Homo sapiens: one gene and its partner. The protein of the gene in region 1 interacts with the protein of each later gene in a pairwise test. Each region holds a gene or a part of one and is shown in the gene's direction. Other genes may lie near its edges.

Region 1 (6,112 bases):
CCCTAAGAGCTAAATTATTTGTTTTCCTTGCTTCACAGAATGCTAATTTCACCTTAGGTGAAAAAAAGATTTTTGCCTAGGAGGTTGAGAAAGACAACTTTTACAAATATTGATACAGGCCCACTGTCCCTTCTGTCTCCTGAGCCCCCAGTGAGTCTCCTGCTGGCTAAGGTCTAGATACTCACTAGAAATCATTTTTTGGGAAATGTGTAGATGGATGGGACAGATGAGATTCTTTCAAAAACTATTGGTATGTCACAATTTTAAATGACAATCAGGATCTTTCTCTGGAAAAGTTTAGAAAGAAAATGGTGTCTCTGAAAACTTTACTTTTCTTCTTTTCAATTTCCAGAACTCCTCTTCCTTTCCTTCCATTTGCCTGGGCACAAACATAACTTAGGCCTTATGTAGATGCCTGCAGTTTTGGTCTAAGTCCTGCTGACTGGTGTCCAGAAAACTGTGAGGGGCAAACATCCTTTTTATTTAGCATTTTCTCTTCTTAACCTTCTACCCTTGGCCTCTTCCTTGCCCAGTGAGGTGAAGTGGTTGACTGTGGAGCCACTCCTGCTAACTGGAAGGAACTGGGCGTTGCCAGGCACTAAGCCAGGAACTTGAACTCAGCTGAGAAGTGGGATCTGGATAACTCCTGCCCCTCAGAGCAAGGCTGGCAACCAGCTCATGGGTGTTTGGCTACCTGGGGGAGGGATTTCTGCTCCTGACAACAGGCAGTTTGTTCAGTTCTTCCTGCCCTGATTCTTCTCCTGTTGCTTTTCACTGCATCCCTGAGCTCTTTGGTAACTCTACCTCTCACCAGTTTTTGCAATTTGCTGTAGACTTCAAAATCCTGGCTCTACCTCTCCTTCCTCTGTAGCTGTATTTCCCTGCAAAGTTGGAAGCCAACCAAGATCAAGTTTCCTTAACTCTTTTTCTTTCAGGGTCCTGGAGCTGAACTCTTCTGACCTACATACCAGAAAGGCTGTATCTTATCCTTCCTCACCAACATCTGAAAGGTTCCCCCAGCAGACTGATTTTAGGTCCCTTTCTGAACTAGAATCTGACAAAGACGCCACACAGTTTTCAGAAACTCTCACCATGCAACAGATTTTCACTAGCACACAGCTGGTCTGCATTTGGGGCCACCTCTGCTTTCTGAGTTCCAACACAATGGATTTTTGTGGTTGTCTACCTGTTTTTGCTCCATGCCCATGTCATCTTTCTCCTGTTGCTTTCTGTTTTCTGCACTTCTGCATTCTCCTCTCTTTTGGTAGAATTTTCTCTTTTCTTCCCTCTTTATGATGTTTTATTTTTTTCTACTCAGCCTGCCGCCTTCTCTTGTTCCTGCCACCCTTTCTGCTCTGGATTCAGCTAGAAGATTTTATGAGTGACTGAAGAGTTTCTAGACTGCTAATCCAGGGATAAACGCAATCTGTCTTTTTTCAGGGTTAGATTCCCAGCCCAGCCTACTTCTTAACTGCATGTGTAATCTTCATCCCCCTCCTACCGATGTTTCTGTGCCGCTTCATTAATCTGTAAAGATGACCCACCCTCTTTCCAGACAAGGAGGCATCTTTTCTCGTTTAGATTCCTCAGCTCTTTAGACTTCTCAGTCATTTAGCTATTCAAAAAATGACAGATGAAATCCGAGGCACAACAAAGTTATCATGAAAACCTTTTCCTTGAGAGCCCCATGTCTGATTGTTCATATTAGCTGTTATTTGGTGGAAAGAACGCTAGATTTTTAAGAAAAGTTCTGGTTTTGCCACATGGTAGCTGTGCAACCTTGGGCAAATCATTTACCTTCCTCGGGTTCTTAGCGTCCTCACTGGTAGAATGGGAATGCTTCACAAGGGCGTTAATGGAGATGAAACAATCAGCAGGAGAGCACTTTGTAGATTGCACTCGGATGGCAGGGTGAATGAGCAGGGATGGTGTCCTCATTTGTTTTTAAAGTCTTCAAAGGTAAAGGATTGTTAAGCATGGAGATTTGATTTGTTGTTTCTGCCAGGTCTCCTGGAAAGCTACAAACTAGAAGAAGTGCAGGAATCCTTGTGGTAACAGGGGTATCAGCTTTTTGTCCACAGAGGGTCCTAAGGAATTCCGACTCCCGTTTTGAAATTGTATCGAATCCAGTCCCAAGTGAATGTGGCCCTGGGGTGGTGCTTTGAGAAGTGGAATCACTGCAGGACAGTTTCAACATTCACTTCCCAGGCAAGCCTAAAGCCTGTTTTAAAAGGGCGTGTGGGGGCCAAACCCATAACAGTCTGGGACATTTCAGACTGGCACCACCTCCTCTGGCTGTTTCCGAGGCCATCTAGAGGCCAGAGCCCAGTCAGATTAACTGAAAGTAAAGAGAGGACTGCGGGAGTTTGGGACCTTTGTGCAGACGTGCTCATGCTCGTTCGTGTAGAGGGCGGGAGAGAGGAAAGGAAGGAGGGCATTGGGAGCTGAGGCCCCACCTTTCATTTCAGAAAAGTGCACAGGCAGAGCGGGCTGAGTCACAGGCACAGGTGAGGAACTCAACTCAAACTCCTCTCTCTGGGAAAACGCGGTGCTTGCTCCTCCCGGAGTGGCCTTGGCAGGGTGTTGGAGCCCTCGGTCTGCCCCGTCCGGTCTCTGGGGCCAAGGCTGGGTTTCCCTCATGTATGGCAAGAGCTCTACTCGTGCGGTGCTTCTTCTCCTTGGCATACAGCTCACAGGTAAGAGCCGGCGGGCTTCTCTCAGAGTTTCCTCCTTCACTGCTCACTCTATAAAGTTAGCTAATTGTCTTAGAAGTTGCAAGACTTTTGTTTGGGAGCCTGAGCCACAGATACAGTTTGTTTTACTTTGGGTTTTACTGAAACCAAAGTTGGTGGACTGTTTTTGGAGAACTGCTCTCGGACAAACAGGTTTAGGTGTGTTCAGCTGCCAGTGATTCAGGCACAGAGAGGGCTTTCTAATCTCAGGTTACATGCCATTTTTTTGTGTGTGGCTGTTCTCAACCTCCCACTGCTGGCAGGACTTGGCATTTGGATTTCTGTGTGTGGGTCTTGTCTGTGACTCTCAGCAACACCAGGAAAGTGGAGATTGTTAGAGAGAGACCTACTGTGATTTTGAAAGTGCCCCAACACACACATTCTAAATGTAAATATCAAGTTTAAAAAAATGCCACGTGGTACAAAGGTTCTAGGGGTGCAGGCAAACATAAGCTGTCTGGAGTTGATTAATTCAGTTTCTGCAATAGACTAGTAACAGTATGAAATCCACCTAAGGACCCATCTGGAAAACTTACCTGCTAGGAGACCACTTTACATACAACACATAATGCTTAACCTTAATACATAATGTAATGTCTAATCAATGTTATGATTCATTTTAATTTTTTGTTTATGCTTTCAATTCTATTTGCGGATGTTTGTAGTTTGTTATAACAGTTTTGAAGTCAGTACCACGAGGCGAGGCTTTAATGCTGTGGAGAAAGTAAAAGCACTGCGAAGGCTTGCTGTGTGGTAGTTTAGTTGTCACATGGAATGGGAGGGTCCAGGCTGCATACAGGTAGGAGTATGTAGATTCTGGGTGAAGTAAGTTTGGGAGATGGGGCATCTCAGTTTCACTTTACTTTAAGTCCTACTCAGATATTTATTTTGGAAGTGTCAGCAGAAGTTCTCACAATACTACATCCCCTGTTAACCCTTCTTTTTCTTCTTTTTCATTGCAGCTCTTTGGCCTATAGCAGCTGTGGAAATTTATACCTCCCGGGTGCTGGAGGCTGTTAATGGGACAGATGCTCGGTTAAAATGCACTTTCTCCAGCTTTGCCCCTGTGGGTGATGCTCTAACAGTGACCTGGAATTTTCGTCCTCTAGACGGGGGACCTGAGCAGTTTGTAAGTAGATTATCATCATTTTCCAGGGTACTCTTGTTTAGGGAAATAATAAGCCAGTCCATTTCTCCTTTCCCTTCCAGTATTTTTCTTAGCAGCAAGCACAAGGTTAAGCTCGGAAACAATTCTTGGGACAGAGACTGAGAGGCCGTTGAAGGGGAAAGCAAGTGACAGAGCTGCAGACAGGACAGTTGGGTTTGCTGGTGTTTCACTTCCGCTCCCACCATCTTGGCCTCCTTGCCTGGGTGCTGAGTAAGAAGACCTTTTGCCATTTCCCCTCTCTAGGTATTCTACTACCACATAGATCCCTTCCAACCCATGAGTGGGCGGTTTAAGGACCGGGTGTCTTGGGATGGGAATCCTGAGCGGTACGATGCCTCCATCCTTCTCTGGAAACTGCAGTTCGACGACAATGGGACATACACCTGCCAGGTGAAGAACCCACCTGATGTTGATGGGGTGATAGGGGAGATCCGGCTCAGCGTCGTGCACACTGGTAGGTTATGCAGGGAACAGTGGTTTTGGAAAGGATGAGAGCTTGTAGAAAAGAAAGGGGCAATCTTTGTTAAGGCTGAGAGAGAGGGACAATCTTTTGTGATGGATAGAGAGAGGGACTAGCCCTTCAGAACTGGGAGCCTCAGAGGGAGACCGAAGAGTTCTGGGGTAAAAAGAGAAAGGCTTTGTTTGGCTGTGGAAAGAAACAGAAAGTAAAGCAAAGGAACTCAGAGAATCCGTTACAAAAATGGCATTGAGATTGTGAAAGGGAGAGGGAGCAATTCTTTGATGAAAGGCTTACAACAGGTCTGTTCACTCACTCATTTATTCGAGATACTTATTGAGTACCTACTCTAATGCTAGGCACCGTCAAAAGTGCATGACATACACTATCTCATTGAATCCCCACACCACTCTAGGAGGCAGGTACTAATGATGGGAGCTAACACTTACTGAGTACTTCCCAAATGTCAGGGGCTTTACATGACACATTTTATTTAATCTTTACATATCTCATCAGTTTATTGTGCATTTAATGCCTCCCATCTTGCCAATGAGGAAACGAGGCTCACAGAGGTTAAGTCATTTGCCCTGAGTCACGTAGCTGATAAATGGAGTAACTTAGGACTCAAACCCAATCAACTTTGAATCTAAAACTGTGCTCTAAATTGGTGCATTGTATTGTCTGCATCCCTATAAAGGACAATCTGGAAAACCATGCCAAGCAACAAAGAGCAAAGTACACGAAACTTATGAATTGTAGATCTGGGTTTGAGTCATTGCTACCATTTACCAGCTATCAATAAGTCTTATTTTCCTCATCTGTAAAGTGAGAATAACACAGTAAGGATCACAGTGAGGATAAAATGAGATAATAAATGTGAATATGTCCCAACCTCTGAATTGTACTTAACAGCTACCATACATTGAGTGTTTATTTTGTACAGGCACAGCAAGGAACAACTTACATGAATTATTTTATTTTTTATTAAGAACTCAAGAAATGAATATCATTATCTCTGTTTATACATGAGGAAACTGAGGCTCAAAGAAGTTAATTACTTCAAATCACACAGCTAAGTATTTCAACCTAGTGCTCTCTGGTGTGTGCTCTTAACCAACACTACTCCAAACATATAAGCCTGTGCAGTGGTACGATTTCCTTTCATTCATAGTACAGTTTAAAACCATTTCTCAATGCCCCACCAATAGAGGGCTGTGTGACCTTGCAGAAGTCATTTGAGTATTGAAAGAAATAATGTAATGGTTTTGGACCTCAGTTTCTTCATCTGCACAATGAAGAGGTTAAACACACAAAAAATCAGTGGTTCTTAAATATATGTGGATAATTATTCTTTGAGAATCAAATAAAAGCCATGGCCCTGCTTCCCATAAAACAGTGGAGACATACAAAATGAGACTTGGATTCTGTGGGCTTGCAGACTACCTTCCATCCTCTTCCCCATCCTCCTTCATGGAGTCAAGGCTGGGAATCCTGGGCTAGACATTCTCTAATGTCCTTTCTGGCTCTGAGGGCTTATGGAAGTATAATCAGAAATAAAGCTAAAGGACAAGAAAACCAGGGTTCACAGACTCTAGTGTGGCTTAGGGGACCTTCCCTCTGGTTTCCCTTTTCCATCATTTATCCACTAGACTGTAGCTTCTGATTTACTTTCCTATCCTCTCAGTGGCATGAGCTCCTTGAAGGTGATGTCTTTTTTGGCTCAGCATTTCTATCACAGTGCCAGGAATGTAGTAG
Region 2 (4,514 bases), on another chromosome or scaffold:
TTAAACTATGGGATCTCTACCTCTTCTGTGCCATCAACTCCTTTGGTGGTCTGACAAGATTTATGGACCCTTTCTCAGAATGTTTTAAAATAAAGAAACAAACAGCATTACAAAGGATAGTGACTTTACTTACATAGTCAATAAAAAGCTGCATTATAGTCACATGTGCTTTTTCAATGCATTAGATAGCAAGTTCTAGTGGAGGACCTAGTAACAGCTATATCAGAAGGAGTGAGGAGTGTAAAGACTGTTTGCCATATCTGAAACAACTGCAATAGGTTATGAGAGTGTAGGATTGAAGATACAGAAAAAAGCCACAAGTGTTTCTAATACTACTATGATGTTAGTGTAGAAAATCCTTACTTAATGTCATCAATGGGTTCTTGGAAACTGTGACTTTAAATGAAACGTTATAATGGAACCAATTTTTTTTCTCATCAATGTTTTAAAGAAAGGATGTTATTCAAGGACCTGCTGTACCTCATTCTGCTTAAAGCCGAAGTTTCCAAGAACCTATCCTGATGTTAAGTGAGGACTTAACTGTATGAGATTCCCCAACTCCTAACTGATGGCAGTGCCAAGTTTCAGTTAGAAAATACCGAACCCCTGATTAGACTTTCTGGGTAGCCAGCTTGCAAGTTCATGAATATCCAAATGTCTCCTGAACGCCTTAAGAGCAGACTGGGAGAGAAATCCGTCTCTCCCTTTATCACTTATGCTCATGGCTTTCTTCCACTGACTCTGAAGAGAAAGGGAAAAGGAAAAACTCTAGGGTTTTTAAAGGACCTATACTTATTTAAAAACTTCTTGTTTTATTCTTACAGCCCAAATCATTAACCCTCGTGTTCTGAGTGATAGGGGGAAATGCTAAGGGGAGTCAGAGCCTGGTTATCAGCATTTTGGATGACCATATATTTTCTCCCCGTTTCACTATCTTTAAGATGGGAAAAGTAATTCCAGTGGGATTTATTGTGACCAGTTAAACACAGAATTCCTGGAGAAGTAATTAGATGACAGTTTTAAATTGTTATTTGTAATTCTGTTTTGGTAGTAAAGGCTGCAGAGGTGATGGTGAATAGGGTGGGTAGTTTCTGATAATGGGCTTGCCTTTGACCTAAATGTAGGTAGGCTGGGTGAGGTGGCTTGCACCTGTAATCCCAGCACTTTGGGAGGCTGAGGTGAGAGGATTGCTTGAGCTCGAGACCAGCTGGGCAACCCAGTGAGATCCCGTCTCTATAAAAAAAAAAAAATTAAAGCTGTAGGTAAATGACTAAGATAAGTCTCTTCTACAGGTATCTTTCCTGAGACTCACCGTCCACTCCTTCTCCAAAAGGTTGGTACTTCACTGATAGACCTTTAGTTTTAGGATTTGTACTGACGTAAATAATGCTGGGACCTTTTAAGGGCCATAGCTCCTGTAACTGGCAGTAGTTAAATCCTCTTCCTTGTGAATTTCTATTAATGAAGTTACTTTTTCCCTTCTTAGGCAACTAAAGCAGAGGCAGTGGCCCCTACGTAAACCCAAAACCAATCCTAAGAATAAGAGATCAACAAATATTTGGAGAAATTACAGCTATGGAAAGATCTGTGTCACAAGCTTGATGTTTGAACAAATTAGGATCCTACTCTAAACTTGAATATATCAGAGTTAAAGTTTTAGGGATTTAGTGAATTGTAGAAAAGTAATCTTAGATGGAATTAGAAATAGATTTGTCTTCCTTGAGAGAAGAATGCGGGTAGGCAAAACAAAATGCCAAGTACCAAACCATTCAGTAGCAGGAGATTTGGCTAAAGATTTAGTTCCTAGTATAAAACCTTTTGCCCCGGTGAGGATCTTCCTCTGGGTTCTTGAGCTTTACCTCCACTTATTCCCCTCCAGCTACTCAAAGATGGAGGTGTGCTGTCACCCATCCTCACACGACTGATGAACTTCTTTGTATTCTCTCGAGGGTAAGTGTCACTGTCAAAGATTGTGGCCTAGAGCAATGTCGTGAAAAGTTGCTGCCATTACAATTCTGGGCCAAATCCTAAGGCTTGATATTTTAAAGCAAAGGTGTTGGCCGCTTGCCAGGGAAGTAGAAGGAATTCATAAATCACTTATGGGTCAGACTGCATGGCCCAGACTGCATGGCCTCTGAGGTTCCAGCCATATTGAACATTCTGAGTTCTCCTCACACTTATCTTCCTGCGTTTTGGACTCTTTCAGTCTCACCCCAGTCTTTGGGCCGTATACTCGGCCCTCTGAGAGTGAGCTGTGGGACATGTGGGCAGGGATCCGCAACAATGACGGGAACTTAGTCATTGACAGGTAAGAAGTTACCCTTTGCTTTGGTTTCCAGAGACGTGTTTTTGTGGAGAGTGGGGATTGCTTGTTCTGTTCCTTGCTGGCTTATTCCCTATCACAGGAAGGCTGATGATGACCTATGGGGCAAACCAAAAAGTCATGGTCTATATGAAGAAAGAAATAGAAAATAAGAGTGAAACTGGACTCTTTGTTAGTATTAAATGCTTCAAAGTATTGAATCATGGTTGTGAAAGTAGCCTAGTGCCTCCCTCAAGGTACAAGGCTCTTCCTTTTGCCTATCTTTCTGCAGCAACGGGGAGTGAGAGGGCAGACTTCTCTTTCTCTGTCTTGTACAAAGAATTCCCATGCCTTGGTTCAAATGAGAATGTAGACACTTTCACAAGGGACCCAGAGGTGGTGATAGCTGTAACTACTTGGGATAAGACTCTGACTTCTAGCCACCTGGCTCAGTGTAGCTTCCAGTGTTTTTACTGATGGCTTTGCTGGGGATTGTATGTTAGAGGGAGCCAATCCTCCCACCCTCTCCTAAGCCCCAACAGGATCCCTGAATATTTCATTTTAGTATTAAAAAACTGAAGAACAATTAAGACTGTCTTTTAAAATTATATTTTCCTTTCCAAAAAGTAAATACTATTTGTAAGATGAGATATTTGAGGTTCACAAAAATAACTGTCCTGGAGTTGCCAGGCAGAATGAGTAGAATACATGAGTTTGAGTTCTAAAATGTGGCAGTGGTGTCTTACGCTGGAGAAAGAGGAATCCTCTCCATTTTATCTGTGGTCAGATGAAGCTTTGTGCTCATCAACATCTACACTTAGAATTTTGAAGTAGATGTCGGCTGGGCACAGTGGCTCACGCCTGTAATTTGAGCACTTTGGGAGGCCAAGGTGGGCGAATCATATGAGGTCAGGAGTTTAGAGACCAGCCTGGCCAACATGATGAAACCCCGTGTCTACTAAAAATACAAAAATTAGCCAGTAATTCCAGCTACTCAGGAGGCTGAGGCACAAGAATTGCTTGAGCCCAGGAAGCGGAGGTTGCAGTGAACTGAGATCATGCCACTGCACTTCAGCCTGGGCACAGAGTGAGACTCCGTCTCAAAAAAAAAAAAAGAAAAAAAAAAAGAAGTAGATGTCAACACAGAAGATCATGTGTTACAATCCTCTTATTTTAAAAATGAGGAGGCTAGCCAGGTCCTTTGGCACATGCCTGTACTCCCAGCTACTTGGGAGGCTGGGGTGGGAGGATCTCTTGAGGTCAGAAGTTATAGCTGTAGTGAGCTATGATTGCACCTGTGACTAGCCACTGCACTCCAGCCTAGGTAACATAGGGAGACCCTGTCTTTTAAAAAACAAACCAACAAATGAGGAAACCGAGTTGAAAGATCTGTGTTATATGTTTGAGTCAGAGAGGTAGGTAGTGGTGGAGCCTAAATTGGAACCTCAGACCTGGGCTTTTTAGTTACATAAAATCCAAACCAACTGTCAGCCTTCCTAGATCTCATTCCCTGCTTAATAAATACACAAACCCACTAATTCTTATATTGATAGTAGGCATAATCACTACTAGAGCTACATGGTGGTTAACTCTAGAGGTTAACAGAAATGGATAAATTAAGTGGGACATTTCCAGGAATGCTAAACTGCTTCTGGATTAAGAAATTGTATCTTGTGTTCCTTGTGGCTCGTTATGCCCTTGAATCCCTGTAACAGTAAAGGTTTCTTGTTCTGCACATGCTGACTTACCTGTCCTACAGTCTCTTACAGTACATCAATCAGAGGAAGAAGTTCAGAAGGCGCTGGGTGGGAGCTCTTGCCTCTGTAACTATCCCCAGTGAGTATTTTTGTATTATTGATAGGAAACTGAAGGACTATAGGGTTAAAGTAATCGCAACTCCTTTATACAATTAGGGTTACCAGATTTAGCAAATAAAAATATAAGATACCCAGTTAAATTTGAATTTTAGATAAACAACAAATGCTTTTTTAGTATTTAAGTATATGTTGTACAATATTTGGGACCTACTTACACCAAAAAAAAATCATTTTTCACCTGAAATTCAAATTTTCTGGGTATCCTTTATTTTACTGGCAACTGTACTCATGACATCTGGAACAGTGATGTGTGTGTGTAGAGTGAAGTATATAAAAAGCTGAGACATTACTGTAAAGGTAGTTGGTATTACTGATTTCTGTGGTGTGCATTGTCA

What was found.
Region 2: the proteins of MPZL2 (region 1) and MEST interact in a two-hybrid assay, tested with the Homo sapiens proteins (one large-scale study listed by BioGRID and IntAct).

The regions. Positions count from the first base shown.
Region 1 is NC_000011.10:118,260,680-118,266,791, reverse strand, and holds the start of MPZL2 (myelin protein zero-like protein 2 precursor), read left to right. Parts: upstream 1-2,494; 5' UTR 2,495-2,638; coding exon 2,639-2,696; intron 2,697-3,694; coding exon 3,695-3,861; intron 3,862-4,143; coding exon 4,144-4,354; intron 4,355-6,112. UniProt on the Homo sapiens protein: Mediates homophilic cell-cell adhesion.
Region 2 is NC_000007.14:130,498,583-130,503,096, forward strand, and holds part of MEST (mesoderm-specific transcript homolog protein), read left to right. Parts: intron 1-1,292; coding exon 1,293-1,333; intron 1,334-1,879; coding exon 1,880-1,950; intron 1,951-2,206; coding exon 2,207-2,308; intron 2,309-4,061; coding exon 4,062-4,138; intron 4,139-4,514.